Linked DNA regions of Homo sapiens. The protein of the gene in region 3 purifies or fractionates together with the protein of the main gene of each other region. This does not show direct contact. Each region holds a gene or a part of one and is shown on either strand. Other genes may lie near its edges.

Region 1 (3,500 bases), on a different chromosome or scaffold from region 3:
AAAAAAAAAAGATTATCTGGGCGTGGTGGCAGGCTCCTGTAATCCCAGCTACTCAGGAGAGTGAGGCACAAGAATCACTTGAGCCCAGGATGCGGAGGCTGTAGTGAGCCTAGATCGCACCACTGCACTCCAGCCTGGGCGACAAAGTGGGACTCCGTCTCAAAAAATATATATATGTATATATATTTTACTGACATGTAGGCTGGGTGCAGTGGCTCATACCTGTAATCCCAGCACTTTGGGAGGCCAAGGTGGGAGGATCGCTTGGGCCCAGGAGTTCCAGACCCCGTCCCTACAAAACATTAATAATTAGCTGGGCATGGTGGCATGTGCCTGTAGTCCCAGCTACTTGGGAGGCTGAGTGGGAGGATCACTTCTTAATCCCAGGAGGTTGAGGCTGCAGTGAGCTATGATCACACCACTGCACTCCAGCCTGGGTAACAGAGCAAGATCCTGTCAAAAAACAACAACACAGGAGGCTGAGGCAGGAGAACGGTGGGAACCCGGGAGGCAGAACTTGTAGTGAGCCGAGATCGCGCCACTGCACTCCAGCCTGGGAGACAGACCGAGACTCCGTCTCAAAAAAAATAAAAAAAACAAAAAAGAGTGTGAATTCTAAGTGTTAAACTCAATGAATTTTCAGCATGACGCCCAGCCCCACTGCTACCCTGTCCCAGCATGGCCCTTCTCCACACTTTATCATCTATGCCCTCTTATCAGCTAAAAATTGGAGGGTACGTGCCAATGTATGTTTGCTTTTTGCTTGGTAAGTTATACACACAACCGTTCCCAGGAAACACCGGGAGGTGGGAAGAGCAGTTGATTCGTGGATCATCGAACTTAACGGGGGGTGGGGGTATTGGACCGTATTCCAAGTAGTTGTCTTGATCATTTCAAAAAGTTTTGGCCGACTTGTGGTCCCACCTGAATATAGGATCTTTTTTTTTTTTTTTTTGAGATGGAGTCTCACTCTGTCACCCAGGCTGGAGTGCAGTGGCACCAACTCGGCTCGCTGCAAGCTCCGCCTCCCAGGTTCACACCATTCTCCTGCCTCAGCCTTCCGAGTAGCTGGGAGTACAGGTGCCCGCCACCACACCTGGCTAATTTTTTGTATTTTTAGTAGAGACGGGGTTTCACCGTGTTAGCCAGCACGGTCTCGATCTCCTGACCTCGTGATCTGCCCGCCTCGGCCTCCCAAAGTGCTGCTGGGATTACAGGCGTGAGCCACCGCGCCCAGCCCATTTTCATTTTTATCCCATTTTATGTAGAGCTTACAACAGAGATAGAAGCTGGGCATCTGGCCTTTTTCTTTTTTTTTTTTTTTTTTTTTTTTTTTTTTTGGAGACAGAGTTTCACTCTTGTAGCCTAGGCTGGAGTGCAATGGCATGATCTCAGCTCACCGCAACCTCCGCCTCCCGGGTTCAACCTCCACCTCCCGGGTTCAAGCGATTCTCCTGCCTCAGCCTCCCGAATAGCTGGGATTACAGGCTTGCGCCACCATGCCCGGCTAATTTTTGTATTTTTAGTACAGACGGGGTTTCACCATGTTGGCCAGGCTAGCCTCGAACTCCTCACCTCAGGCAATCCACCCGCCTCGGCCTCTCAAAGTGCTGGGATTACAGGCGTGAGCCACTGCGCCCGGCCGTCTGGCCTTTTTCTTATTGTCCGATTGTGCCTGCATTATTTTATTATTATTATTATTATTATTTCCTAAGATTATTAGGAAAAACCTTTTATCCTCCACTTCTCTAGAGGAGTACTTAGGCCATATGCTTATTTCCTGAACATTAGTTTAATTAAAACTAGGTGAGGCTGTTTCTCAGGCCCCATAACCAGGTCCACATAAGCTGGAGTCTGTGTTAAATCTGAAAATGTTAAAAGGAGCCAAAAAGCTCAGTGGATTCTAGAACCAGACAGCCTGGGTTCCAATCCAGCTGTATCCCTTATGAGCTGTGTGACTCTGGACTACTTACTCAACTTCTCTGTACCTCTGTTTCCTTGTGTCAAAAAGGGGCCATACTCCAATATTACTGGACTGTAGTGGAGATGTCTAAAACTGTGCTGTCCAACAGAAATATAACATGAAGCAGCCGCGAACAGTGGCTCACGCCTGTAATCCCAGCACTTTGGGAGGCCGAGGCTGGCAGATCACTTGAGGTCAGGAGTTCGAGACCAGCCTGGGCAACATGGTGAAACCCCGTCTCTACTAAAAATACAAAAATTAGCCGGGTATGATGGCGGATGCCTGTAGTCCCAGCTACCCGGAAGGCTGAGGCAAGAGAATCGCTTGAACCTGGGAGGCAGAGGTTGCAGTGAGTCGAGATCATGCCATTGCACTCTAGCCTGGAAAATGGAGCAAGACTCCATCTCCAAAATATATAAATAAATAAATAAATATATATATATATCTCCTAATAATACATTTTATTAATCCAATATGTAAATGCATTTAATAATATATTTTATTTAACTCAATATACCCAACATGGTCCAATATAATGTTCCATTACGAATGAGGCATCTTCCATACCTTTTTTATTTTGTTGTTTTTGAGACAGCGTCTCACTCTATTGCCCAGGCTGGAGTGCAGTGGCGCGATCTCCGGTCACTGCAGCCTTGATTCTCCTGGCCTCAGGCGATCCTCTGACCTCAGTCTACCAAGGAGCTGGGGCCACAGGCATGCACCACCACACCCAGCTAATTATTTTTATTTTAATTTTATTTATTTATTTATTTGTTTGTTTCTTTATTTTGAGATGGAGTTTTGCTCTTGTTGCCCAGGCTGGAGTGCAATGGTGTGATCTTGGCTTACTGCAACCTCTGCCTCCTCGGTTCAAGCGATTCTCCTGTCTCAGCCTCCCGAGTAGCTGGGATTACCAGCACCTGCCACCATGCCCTGCTAATATTTTTTATTTTTAGTAGAGACAGGGTTTCACTGTGTTGGCTAGGCTGGTCTCGAACTTCTAAACTCAGGTGATCCACCTGCCTCAGCCTCCCAAAGTGCTGGGATTACAGGCGTGAGCCACCACACCCGGCCTATTTTTATTTTTTGTAGAGATGGGTCTCACTGTTGCCCAGGCTGGTCTCGAACTCTTGGGCTCAAGAGATCCTCCTACCTCAGCCCCCTAAAGTACTGGGATTATAGGCATGAGCCACTGCACCCTGCCTTAATTAATTAAAAATTAGATAAAATGCCGGCCGCGGTGGCTCACGCCTGTAATCCCAACACTTTGGGAGGCCAAGGTGGGAGGATCACTTGAGCCCAGGCAACATGGGGAGACCCAGTCTCTACAAAAATACAAAAATTAACGGGTACATATCCAGGTTTGTTATATAGCTAAATGGCATGTCACAGGGTTTGGTGTACAGATTATTCCATCACACAGGTAATAACTGTCGTACCTGATAGGTAGTTTTTTGTTGTTGTTGTTTTAAGACAGAGTCTCGCTCTGTCGCCCAGGGTGGAGTGCAGTGGCGCCATTTCAGTTCACTGCAACCTC
Region 2 (3,500 bases), on a different chromosome or scaffold from region 3:
AAAAAAAAAAGTCGGCCGGGCGTGGTGGCTCACGCCTGTAATCCTAGCACTTTGGGAGGCCGAGGTGGGCAGATCACGAGGTCAGGAGAACGAGACCATCCTGGCTACCATGGTGAAACCCCGTCTCTACTAAAAATACAAAACACTAGCCAGGCTTGGTGGCGGGCGCCTGTAGTCCCAGCTACTCGGGAGGTTGAGGCAGGAGAATGGCATGAACCCGGGAGGCAGAGCTTGCAGTGAGCCCAGATTGTGCCACTGCACTCCAGCCTGGGCAACAGAGCGAGACTCTGTCTCAAAAAAAAAAAAAAAAAGAAAGAAAGAAAATTAGCCGGGTGTGGTGACACATGCCTGTAATCCCAGCTACTCAGGAGACTAACGCAGAATCACTTGAACCTGGGAGGCGGAGGTTGCAGTAAGCCAAGATGGCGCCACTGCACTCCAGCGTGGGCAGCTAGAGTGAAACTCCGTCTCAAAAAAGAAAAAGAGGTGGGATCTTTAGGGGCGCTTACCATCTTAATGTGGTCTCACCATGTGACTCACACACCCCGCGGTGCCCCCACTTAAGGAGGAGTTGCAAGCGCAGCATAGCTTTTGCACACATGAAGGTGGTGGCCTCTCTCCTTTCTCCCCCAGAGTGGCCCAGTCAGGCTTTTTGTGCCTTACAAAAGGCGCAAGAAGGAGAATGAACTGCCCACAACTCCCGTGAAGAAGGACTCCCCCAAGAACATCACATTGCTTCCAGCCACCGCGGCTACCACCTGTGAGTTTGAGAAAACACAGCTCTAGTTTACTGAGGGGACCTGAGTGCATTGCCTTCTCTCGTCACCACTCCCACGGCCACTGCGGGATTCTCACTTCTAAAGCACATTGCGTGGCCAGAGGGATTCCAACGCCATCACACTCCTTTGCAGTGCGTCCCCCGGGTGGGAAGGGGTGTCCCAGTGCCCAGCTCGGTCTTGCTTCCCTGGGACCCGGACACTGTTGGCCTTGTCCTGGGCTGTTTCCTAGTATGAGTGAGCATGGCTGAGTGCCCAGCACACGCTCAGGGGACGTTTCCTGACAAGGGCGTCCTTGGTGAGGGATTCTCAGTGCGCTGGACGAGGGCTGCGGAGAGCTCTGTGGGTCTTTCTCTGTGGCCGGGCTGGAGGGCGGCGTCAGGATCCCGGCTCGCTGCAGCCTCGGCCTCCCAGGCTCAGGCACTGCTCTCACCTCAGCCTCCCAAGTAGCTGGGACCACAGGCACGTGCCACCATGCCCAGCTAATGTTTTTATTTTTTTGTACAGACAGGATTTAAATGGGGAGAGGTAGCAATAGGAGAAAATGTCTTTGTAATAGGCTTTTGTTAACTAAGTCTGGGTTTTTGCATTTATAGAGTAAGGTCTTTCTAAAACACCCTGTCAGCTCCTTCCTGAGGCCCTGGGTGGTGGGTGCAGGAAGAGTCCCACAGCAGCAGAGTCTCAAGATCTGTCGCCAGGATTTTTTTTTGAGCTGGAGAGGCAGCCTTGCTGTGGGACACAGGGCAGCCTTGCTGTGGGACACGGCTGCTTTTTACCTTCAGCTTGGATTAAAGATTTTTTCTTAATTCGAACCACGAAGTACTTAAAAATCACTGAAAGTTTTATTTTATGTTTGTTTTCTGGCTGGGCAGCACATTTCCATGGTTCACAGTTTAAACAGCGAACAATTGGTAGTGGCAAGTTGCCATCCTGGCCATCCTGGTTTTCTCCTGTGAGGTCTTCTCCAAGGTCTGGGATTTCCCCCGTGTCCTTCACATGGGAGGGTACAGTTACCACTGCCCGCCCTTCAGCCCAGGCCCCCACAAGGATTGGCGCCCGTGGGTGGCACGGGACCTGTGTGCCGTGGGCGCCACTGCCTGGCCGCGTGAAATGTGCTTCTGCCTTTCCAGTCACCGTGACCCCCTCGGGACAGATCACGACCTCGGGGGCACTGACCTTTGACCGAGCGTCCACGGTAGAGGCCACTGCTGTCATATCAGAGAGTCCGGCCCAGGGCGACGTCTTCGCAGGGGCCACAGGTGAGCTGCTCCAGTGCCTGCCTGACGCGTCCTCAGCATATCCCTGTCTGTGACATCACATCCCCGACGCCACATTGGGCTGCATAGGCTGCTGGGTGCCTCGAGAGGGGCCTTGAACCAGGCGTTTGTTGGTGGGGACAGCGTGTGAGCCACGTCAGGTGGGCGGTGCAGTGTGGATGGGGTTGGCGTGTGGCAGTGGGTTACTTGTGACAGATGCCAGAACTGGCAAAGCTGAAAATACTCTCTGTCTGCCGGCTCCTGCTTTTGACTGCAGTTGTGCAACAGAAATGCAGCCTAGCTGGTTGTGTGCTGGAGAATATTCTAGAAGCCACACTGAGGAAAATAGAGTTAGAACTGATTTTTTTTTTTTTTTGAGGTGGAGTCTCGCTCCATCCCCCAGGCTGGAGGGCAGTGGCATGATCTCGGCTCATTGCAAGCTCCGCCTCCCGGGTTCACACCGTTCTCCTGCCTCAGCCTCCCAAGTAGCTGGGACTACAGCGCCTGCCACCATGCCCGGCTAATTTTTTTTTGGTATTTTTAGTAGAGACAGCGTTTCACCATGTTAGCCAGGATGGTCTCTATCTCCTGACCTCGTGATGCGCCCATCTTGGCCTCCCAAAGTGCTGGGATTACAGGCGTGAGCCACCGCGCCCGGCCTGATTTTTATAATCTATTTTATTTCACCTGATATAGCCCCAATCCTATTATGTCAACGATTCAGGATCACCACATTTCAGGGGCTCAGTAGCCACGTGTGGCCATAAGCTACTATGTGTACTGAATGGCGCAGCCATACAGCGTGATATTTAGAGTCTGCTGTGCGGACAACCATCCCGAGCCTCCCTGTCCTTTTTCTCCCCAACAGTCCAAGAGGCCAGCGTGCAGCCCCCATGCAGGGCCAGCCACCCTGAGCCTCACTACCCCGGCTATCAGGACAGCTGCCAGATCGCACCGTTTCCAGAAGCTGCGTTGCCAACGTCACATCCCAAAATAGGTAGGTTTGAAAGAATTCACACATGTACAGGTTATTGTCCTCAGAATTGCTTCCAATGAAAGAATTCCTAAGTGAAATGGGATTCATTTTGGTTTGGTTTGTTGTTTTTGTTGATGCATTAGATCAGTGGCTGGTAAAGTGTGGCCCACTGCCTATGTTTGTAAATAAAGTTTTACTGACACACAGCCACGTCCATTCATGTGTGTGCTGTGGAAGTTGCTTTTGGTACAGCAGCAGGGCACGCCCCTAGAAACCAGTTGGCCTGTGAAGCCTGAAGTTCTTTCTGGTGAGTTTGCTGTTGTCCTCTTGAGGGTAGACACTCCCCAGTGGCAGGTCTTGGTCTCTCCAGAGCTGGCATAGACATTCGGTATCTGGTGAAAGAAAGAAAAACCAAGGCCTAAATGTGGCCTAAATCTTTAAAATGACGATACACTGTAAATGCATTCTAACTTTGATTTTTCGTTTAACTGC
Region 3 (4,264 bases):
TTTGTGCTTGATGCTCTCCCCAACACCACCCCCAATGCTCTCACCCACCTCTCTCTTCCTCCTCCCCTACCAAAATACACAAACATGTTAATTCCTAGTTATCTCAAGTGATCTTTGAAGCATTTCCTGATTTTGCCCACATCTGTGGGTAGCTTTGCATTTTCCTATTGTAGTACTTCTCAAATTAAGTCTATTTACCTGTCTCCTCCTTTGCATAGTAAGCACTCTGAAAATAAGAATGTTTCTTTTACATTTTTGTATCTCTATTTCTGGGGCTCAAAACAGTGCCTAGCACAAGTAGACACTCAACAAGCATTTTTTGAATGAGTGTATAATTATATAGTCTGTAGATATAAGGATTTCTGATCTTGAGACTCTCTGAAAGCCTTGCTCCAAAAGTGTGTCTGATTCCTAAGCATTAATCTTTTTCTTCCAGGGTGTGGGGTTCTAGGTAGGTGGAGAAGGAAAACAAAAGCGCTCAGGACGCGTTGCCTTTAGCTCTCCGGAGAGCCAGTAATGTGTCCTGCCTTTCTCCACCCTCCTCCCTACCACCTTTCCACACCTGGGTGCCCAAGATGGGTGTAGACTTAGCTGACCAGCCCAACAACATACTCATACCTTGGTTCAGACTTCTCTTATTACCAAACTAAAGTTGGCCAATACACATAAACAATTTTCAACTTGTCTTTTGAACGTATACTTTATGAAATTTGTATGTCTTAAAAATTGTAGGCCTTAAAATGAACGAACCCGGATTCTTTTATAGTAATCAAGTAAAATATAGGGGTCTTAATTCTGTACTTTGCCTTTGCTAATCTTAAAGTTAGATGTGACTAACTGAGCAAAGTAATTAATTACGGGACTTTGATAGTGGTGATATTCCTAAGTTTTATAACCTAATTGTTCAATTACTGGAAACAACTACATTTCGACAAGTCTTAGGTAAAGAAAATTGAATTTAGCCGGAGAAGATTCAATTGAGGGAAGTGAGGGACAGAGGTATTTGTGATTTAGGGTTTGTGGAAGATAAATTACGCAGCAGGGAAGACTGAAATATGGAGAGAAAGTCAGACCTCACTGGGTACTTATGACTGGTAAGGCTAGGAGTTGGAGGTGGAGAAAAGTAGGAAGGACCGTCTAAGGGTTGGATCCCCAACAACACCATAATACAAGACCGTCCTTGTTCAGCCAACAGCAGCACTGAACACGTTCGCTAAGTGTGTCGGTGACCATGGTAACGGTGGGAGGGGGCGGTCCAAACCTCGCCCTCGAGCATGCTCAGTGCAGAGCGAGCCTGGTAGGGTGCTGGACAACAATGAATCCCTTTTTTCTTCAACCGGAGAACTACAATTCCCAAGAGCCTTCTCGGTGCGGCGACACCGCCTTCCGCTGTGGCCCTGCCCGGTCCCCTCCCTCAGGCCCCGCCCCCCGGCTAGACCCCTCCCCTCCTTGCGAGTGTATGTCAGTGACCCAGAGGCGGTGTGAGGCGGAGGGACCGTCGGGGGGCGCCGCCGCCGCCTCCACTAGCAGCAGCGGCAGCAGCCCTAGTCCCGCGGTGCGGTCGAATTGGTCCCCAGCCCTCCGGGAGCGCACCACAAAGCAGCCCCAACGCCTCTCCCTGCGTCCGCGGCTCCTCAGCGCTCGGCTCCGTGGTCAACTTCCCCTCGCTGGGCTCGGCTGGCGGGCGCGGAGGGCAGCGGCGGAACGGCGGGCTGTCTGCTCGCGCTCCCCGCGCACAACACTTCACCCTCTCGCCTCGGGTCTCGGGGGCCGCTCTGGGATCCCGGCCACCAGCAATTGTCCGGTAAGTGTGACCGCGGGGCGCCGCGGGATGGATGGCGGCGGGGCCGCCGAGGGGCGCGGGGAGGGCGGGCGCGCAACTTCCTCGGCGGCTTCCCCGGCGGCCAGCAGCCGGCTCTCCCCGCCCGCCTGCGCGCCCCCGCTGCGGCGGGGAGCGGAGTTTGCGGCGCCTGCATCCCGCGCCCTGGCTCGAGGAAGCGCCTTTGTCAGGAACCGGCCCTACGCGGCCTCCCCCTCCGCCCGGGAGCGGGGCGCGCGGCGGCCAACTCCGAGCCCCGCGCCTGGCTGGCCGCGCGCTCCGGCTGCGAGAGGGGAGCTCTGCGGGTGGCGGGGAGGAGAGGGAAATGGGAGAAACAAAAGGGGCGGTGGGTTTCCCTTTTGTTTGTGCGGATCTGATAACTTCTTTTCCTCCCTTACATAACGCAGACTTCAAGTTAGTCATTCTTTTTATTGTTATGATTGTTGTCATCATCTCTGCGCGTCTTTCACATTTCCTTTCATCTTTGGATCTCAGAGCATTTTAAACACGCTAATTAATTTCACCCCCGGGTCCCCTAGGAAACAAGTTAATACGCCCGTTTCCCTAAGTGGGTAAACTGAGGTCGTGAAAAGCTCTCAAATTGATGGATACGCTTGATCTTCTACCGCGCCTCGTGTCTGAGTATATGAAAGCGTTTATGAGGAAGAACCCGTTCTCCAAAGCCCCGTGGAAAAGTTAAAGATGCTCATTTTACTTACAGGTTAACTGAAGTCCAAAAGATGTCTAGGTAATTGTTACGTAGTTCAAACCATAATTCTTCTTACATAGTGTTTGAATCTTAAAACCTCTAAAGACTTAGTGAAAAATGCTCCGAGTAGGGAAATTAATGTAAATCATAAACTCACGTCACCATCTACTTTTATTTTTGTACGTGCAGGTCTGTTAGAGGCAAGAGAGCAAGAAGGGGACAGAGGGCAGAGGTTTTTTAAAAATGTACATTTAACAGATTTTAATCACTACACACAAGGAAATGTGCCTTGGTTTTAACAGCACCAACAATATTCCTGTCGTTTAGTCATCAAACAGTATATCAACAAATGTTATTGAGAACTTTATTCATAAGGTGCTGGTTGTGCTAAAAACTGAAGCTTTATATATAAGAAAAGGTCATCTGTTTCGGTTCACAGGCTCTTTACTTTTTCTTACTCTGCAAAATGTTACTTTGTTTTCATTGCACATGATCTTTTGTTTCAGAAATGGCATTGTCCTTTACTGTGTCGAATATGTATTACTCTTACACTTAAGGATAAATGAATTTATTATTAAGTTTTCATAATAGGGTGAATTTAAAATATTTTAATTGTGGTAAAGGTTCACTTTATTCAGTTCTGTTTCAGTTTACGATGCGTTTTCTTTATAGCCAACAAAATATTTTCTGAGTGATAAGATTTACATGTCTCAAAACATTGTTCTTAGTGTACAAATACAGCATATGAATTCCTTGTTTTTTTTATTTATACCAACAACCTCTTCTGGGGAAAAGTCTTTAACTCTGAGGACCTTATTTATTTTGTGAGTTTTTATTTCTTCGGTACCATACTGGAAAGCACCAAAAATTTAAACCAAGCATCACTTCTACTAGCTCTTTCCTCAGGTAAATAATAATCAGAACTGTAGTAATAGTGAATAGTTTCACTTACTCTAAATTCTCTTAAATTTAATTTTGTACTATATAGTTGTCCTTACATTTTAGATTTTGGTGGTTGCATCAGAAAATGAAAGTGAGATGTTCGTTATTTTATTTTTTTTCCCAAAGCCTTCTAACCTGTTCCCTTTCTATAGTATGTTAAAAGAGATCTTGAGTTTAAAATAAATAATTGGAAAGTAGAACAGTTATATGTATGGAAAGTTGCATGTAGTGAAGTGGTTATAGTGTCTCATGTAGTGAATGTACAGGTTTTAAAGAGGAAACTATCACCTAGCTTTTTATTAGCATGGTAGAAGTGCTGTAATGTAATAGTAGTAGTATTTATTTGCTTCTAAAAAGTAAGCTGGAAATTTGCCTCAGTGGAATTTGTAGGGGGAGGGAATCCATTCTTTCCTTAAGATTGGCATTTAAATGTTCTTACAGTTGGTTATGTTGAACTTTTTCTGTGGTATTTTCAAGCCAGATTTACCAGGAACATTTGTACTTCAAGGAAGCTACTAACACTGTCTTGGCTCAGTCACTGGAATCCACAGGCAGAAGTTAGTGTTGACTGGCAAAGTCTGGCTTTGCAGGTTTCATAATTTCTTTGAGACCCCTTAAAGGAAATGACTGAAAAGTACGGGGTAGGAAGTTAGTCTAGTACTGCCAAATGCCACTGAGGCAAGTTTCAAAGGGGAAGCCAAAGGATGTTTCCATTTGATTTAAGTTCAGCCTCTTCTGGGTTGTCAGAATGTCACTTTTGTATTTTAAGAGTTCTATCATTTCAGAATATGATG
Region 4 (3,500 bases), on a different chromosome or scaffold from region 3:
ATAGCAAAAAAGTGACAACTTGAATGTCAGCTAATAAATACCTAAAATATGGTATACTTATGCAATAAAAAATTATCCAATAAAAAGAAATAAAATATTGATATATGCTGTAACACAGATAACTGAAAACATTATGCCAAGTGAAAGAAGTAACAAAAGATCATATATTAAACGATTCCATTTATATGAAAACTCCCAGAATAGGCAAATCTACAAAGAGAGAAAGTAGATTTAAGGTGCCTAGGACTGCAGAGGGTATATGGGGAAGGAAAGTGATGAAAATGTTGTAAACCTAGACTACAGTGATGGTTGTACAACTCTGTGGGTATACCAAACCACTGAATTGAACATTTTAATGGGTGATTTTTATGGTATGTGATTTATATTTCAATTAAAATTTTTTAAAATTAAAAACTATAACATTGATGGGGTTTTCAATATATGTAGATAAAATACACAGGAACTACATAAAGTGTAGTTACAGAACATGAAATAGTACATTAACTCCAAGTAGATTGTAAAAGGCTAAGTAGGTAGATACTGTAATCCCTAGAGCAACCATGAAAAAAATAAAAACAAAAAGCTCAAAAAAAATCATGAATGATAGTGAAAAAAATGTTTTCATATAGAGACTAAAACACTCACTGGAAAAACAACTAATGACTGTGCTTCAGGAAAAAGGGAAAATAAACCCAGAATAAAGGAATAACTTGCCAATGAAGAATACAAGAAAAAATACTGCACTTGAACTACAGAAATGTTTGGTGGCTGAAAAAAAAAATTACTTTTTTAAAGATAGCAGGCTGGGCGTGGGTGGTTCACACCTGTAATCCCAGCACTTTGGGAGGCCAAGGCAGGCAGATGGCTTGAGTCCAGTAGTTCGAGACCAACCTGGGCAACAAGGCGAAACCCAGTCACTTCAAAAAATAAAAAAATCAGCTGGGTGTGGTGGTGCATGCTTGTAGTCCCAGCTATCCAGGGGGCTGAGATGGGAGGATCCACCTGAGCCTGGGAGGTCAAGGCTGCAAGTGAGCCGTGATCATGCCACTGCACTCCAGTCTGGGTGACAGAGTAGGACCCTGTCTCAAATAATAATAATAATAATAATAAAATATAGCAAAATTATGAAAAGATGCCTATATATCTTAAGGCAAACAATTTTTTTTTTCTTTTTTTTTTTTGAGACGGAGTCTTGCTCTGTCACCCAGGCTGGAGTGCAGTGCAGTGGCACGATCTCGGCTCACTGCAAGCTCCACCTCCCGGGTTCACACCATTCTCCTGCCTCAGCCTCCCGAATAGCTGGGACTACAGGCGCCTGCCACCATGCCTGGCTTATTTTTTGTGTTTTTAGTAGAGATGGGGTTTCACCACGTTAGCCAGGATGGTCTCGATCTCCTGACATCGTGATCCACCAGCGTCGGCCTCCCAAAGTGCTGGGATTACAGGTGTGAGCCACCGTACCGGGCCAACAATGTTTTTAAAGGAGTTTAAAAACGTATATAAGTGGCCGGGCGCAGTGACTCACGCCTGTAATCCCAGCACTTTGGGAGGCCGACGCTGGTGGATCACGATGTCAGGAGATCTAGACCATCCTGGCTAATGTGGTGAAACCCCGTCTCTACTAAAAATACAAAAAAAAAAAATTAGCCGGGCATGGTGGGCGCCTATAGTCCCAGCTACTCGGGAGGCTGAGGCAGGAGAATGGTGTGAACCCGGGAGGCGGAGCTTGCAGTGAGCCGAGATCGCGCCACTGCACTCCAGCCTGGGCGACAGAGCGAGACTCCGTCTCAAAAAAAAAAAAAAAAAAAAAAAAGAACAGAAAAATCACCGGTAAAATGTGAGAATCGTCCTATAAATACAGACACCTGAAGGAAGAAATAAGTTTTTTTCCAAAACAATTCAATCTATTTAAAAAAGTAAATAATGACATTCAATCTGAAGTCATTAAAAAAGTGGAGATCCTGTTTATGGTGTACACACCTTGGTTGTTTTGTAGAGACTTTATTTTACCAGTTCTACATGGATTTAACTGAAGAACTGATGCAAGTTCACATCCTCCATGGTCTGACCTGGTTTGTATTTTTATTGGCTCATGAGAACCAGCACTCTAAAACAGAAATAATTGTTAGCTCTAAATGAAATCACAAGCAATCATTTTAATCAAAATCCTTGAACATTTAACACAAACCTTTATGTCATCTAAAACATTCTCAGTCTCCAAACTTTCACGTGGACGTAGAGGAATTTTAAAGACAGCATTTTCTTCTTTTATTTGTAATGATGGTTTATTGTCTGGAGAGCATTTATTCAAGGGCTGAAGGATGATGCATTCCTGTGAACAGGGCTCCCCTGGGGAATCTTTGGGCAACGTGCAGTTGCCATCTGAGGCCTTACGGCTTGAGGAAAAGCCCTTTGGAATGGTCTTCAAAGCCTCATAAAGAGTCACTTGCCTAAATTTGTTTTTAGAAGTCTCACTTCCTTGGCTTTTCTCTTGACGCTGAATAGCTGAAAATCGATCAGACAGATCCAGAGGTTTATCCATCACACAGTCTCCATTCATGGAAAACTGATTATCCATTGGAAAAGGGAAAGCATTTTCTTTATCAAAAGAAGCTTGGGGGCAGCTTACTTCATGTTCACTTTCTTCCTCAGTTTTCTTCCTTTTGGATGTTCGGCCTCCCAATGATTTCAGGGGCTCCAAATGTTTATCAGTGTTAGAATCTTTACCGTACTCAGTCCTATTCTGTTCACCTAGGGATTCACTTATATTTTTATTTATAAGTATCTGTTTATTAGATGACTGGATAATGATCTTGTTCACTTCAGACCCAAGACTGTGATGTGTGAAAAGGGCACTATCTTCAGATTTTGATCTAGTTTTTTCTAATCTAGATATACAAGTGTTGCTAAAAGGGAGTGTTTTCAGATGTTTTTTTTTCCCAGGCTGTAAAAGAGAAGGGGACAAACTTGTATTCAAATCTAAACCACTTTTGATACTAGAGGTAGCTCCAAATACAGGAGATGACACTCGAGTAGGTAATTCTTCTTGAGGAGGAGTCTTTGAAGTAGAATCTGAAAATCTAAATAAAGAGTGATAACAATTCTTTAATACAGAATTAATAGTAAGGTCTTATCTACCTCTTAGAAGCAAATGATTAACCAAAATTTAAGACAAGGTACAGCTTTTGGCTTCTCTTCATTTAGATGACAAAAGAGAAGGGGAAAAGCAGAGGAAAATGACATAGGAAGTATTTCTCAACACCATAATATTCATATTTTAAAAATTTTTCCTAAGTACTTTAAATAACTTTATTATACAAAAAATCATCTTTTGCCAGGCGCAGTGGCTCATGCCTGTAATCCCAGCACTTTGGGAGGCCAAGGTGGGCAGATCACTTGAGGCCAGAAGTTCGAGGCCAGCCTGGCTAACATGGTGAAACCCCATCTCTACTAAAAATACAAAAATTAGCCGGGTGTGGTGGCACACGCCAGTAATCCCA

Evidence for each region. The genes of interacting proteins can lie anywhere in the genome.
Region 1: the proteins of PELI1 (region 3) and TICAM1 purify together in Homo sapiens (affinity purification with western blotting, with the first as the bait; one study listed by BioGRID). This does not show direct contact.
Region 2: the proteins of PELI1 (region 3) and DEAF1 purify together in Homo sapiens (affinity purification with western blotting, with the first as the bait; one study listed by BioGRID). This does not show direct contact.
Region 4: the proteins of PELI1 (region 3) and RBBP8 purify together in Homo sapiens (affinity purification with western blotting, with the first as the bait; one study listed by BioGRID). This does not show direct contact.

Annotation. Positions count from the first base shown.
Region 1 is NC_000019.10:4,825,213-4,828,712, reverse strand, and holds part of TICAM1 (TIR domain-containing adapter molecule 1), read left to right. Parts: intron 1-3,500.
Region 2 is NC_000011.10:678,223-681,722, reverse strand, and holds part of DEAF1 (deformed epidermal autoregulatory factor 1 homolog), read left to right. Parts: intron 1-633; coding exon 634-760; intron 761-1,906; coding exon 1,907-2,035; intron 2,036-2,900; coding exon 2,901-3,029; intron 3,030-3,500. UniProt on the Homo sapiens protein: Transcription factor that binds to sequence with multiple copies of 5'-TTC[CG]G-3' present in its own promoter and that of the HNRPA2B1 gene. Down-regulates transcription of these genes.
Region 3 is NC_000002.12:64,141,621-64,145,884, reverse strand, and holds the start of PELI1 (E3 ubiquitin-protein ligase pellino homolog 1), read left to right. Parts: upstream 1-1,464; 5' UTR 1,465-1,804; intron 1,805-2,358; exon of another isoform or gene 2,359-2,567; intron 2,568-4,264. UniProt on the Homo sapiens protein: E3 ubiquitin ligase catalyzing the covalent attachment of ubiquitin moieties onto substrate proteins. Involved in the TLR and IL-1 signaling pathways via interaction with the complex containing IRAK kinases and TRAF6.
Region 4 is NC_000018.10:22,992,328-22,995,827, reverse strand, and holds part of RBBP8 (DNA endonuclease RBBP8), read right to left. Parts: intron 3,081-3,500; coding exon 2,189-3,080; intron 2,108-2,188; coding exon 1,981-2,107; intron 1-1,980. UniProt on the Homo sapiens protein: Endonuclease that cooperates with the MRE11-RAD50-NBN (MRN) complex in DNA-end resection, the first step of double-strand break (DSB) repair through the homologous recombination (HR) pathway.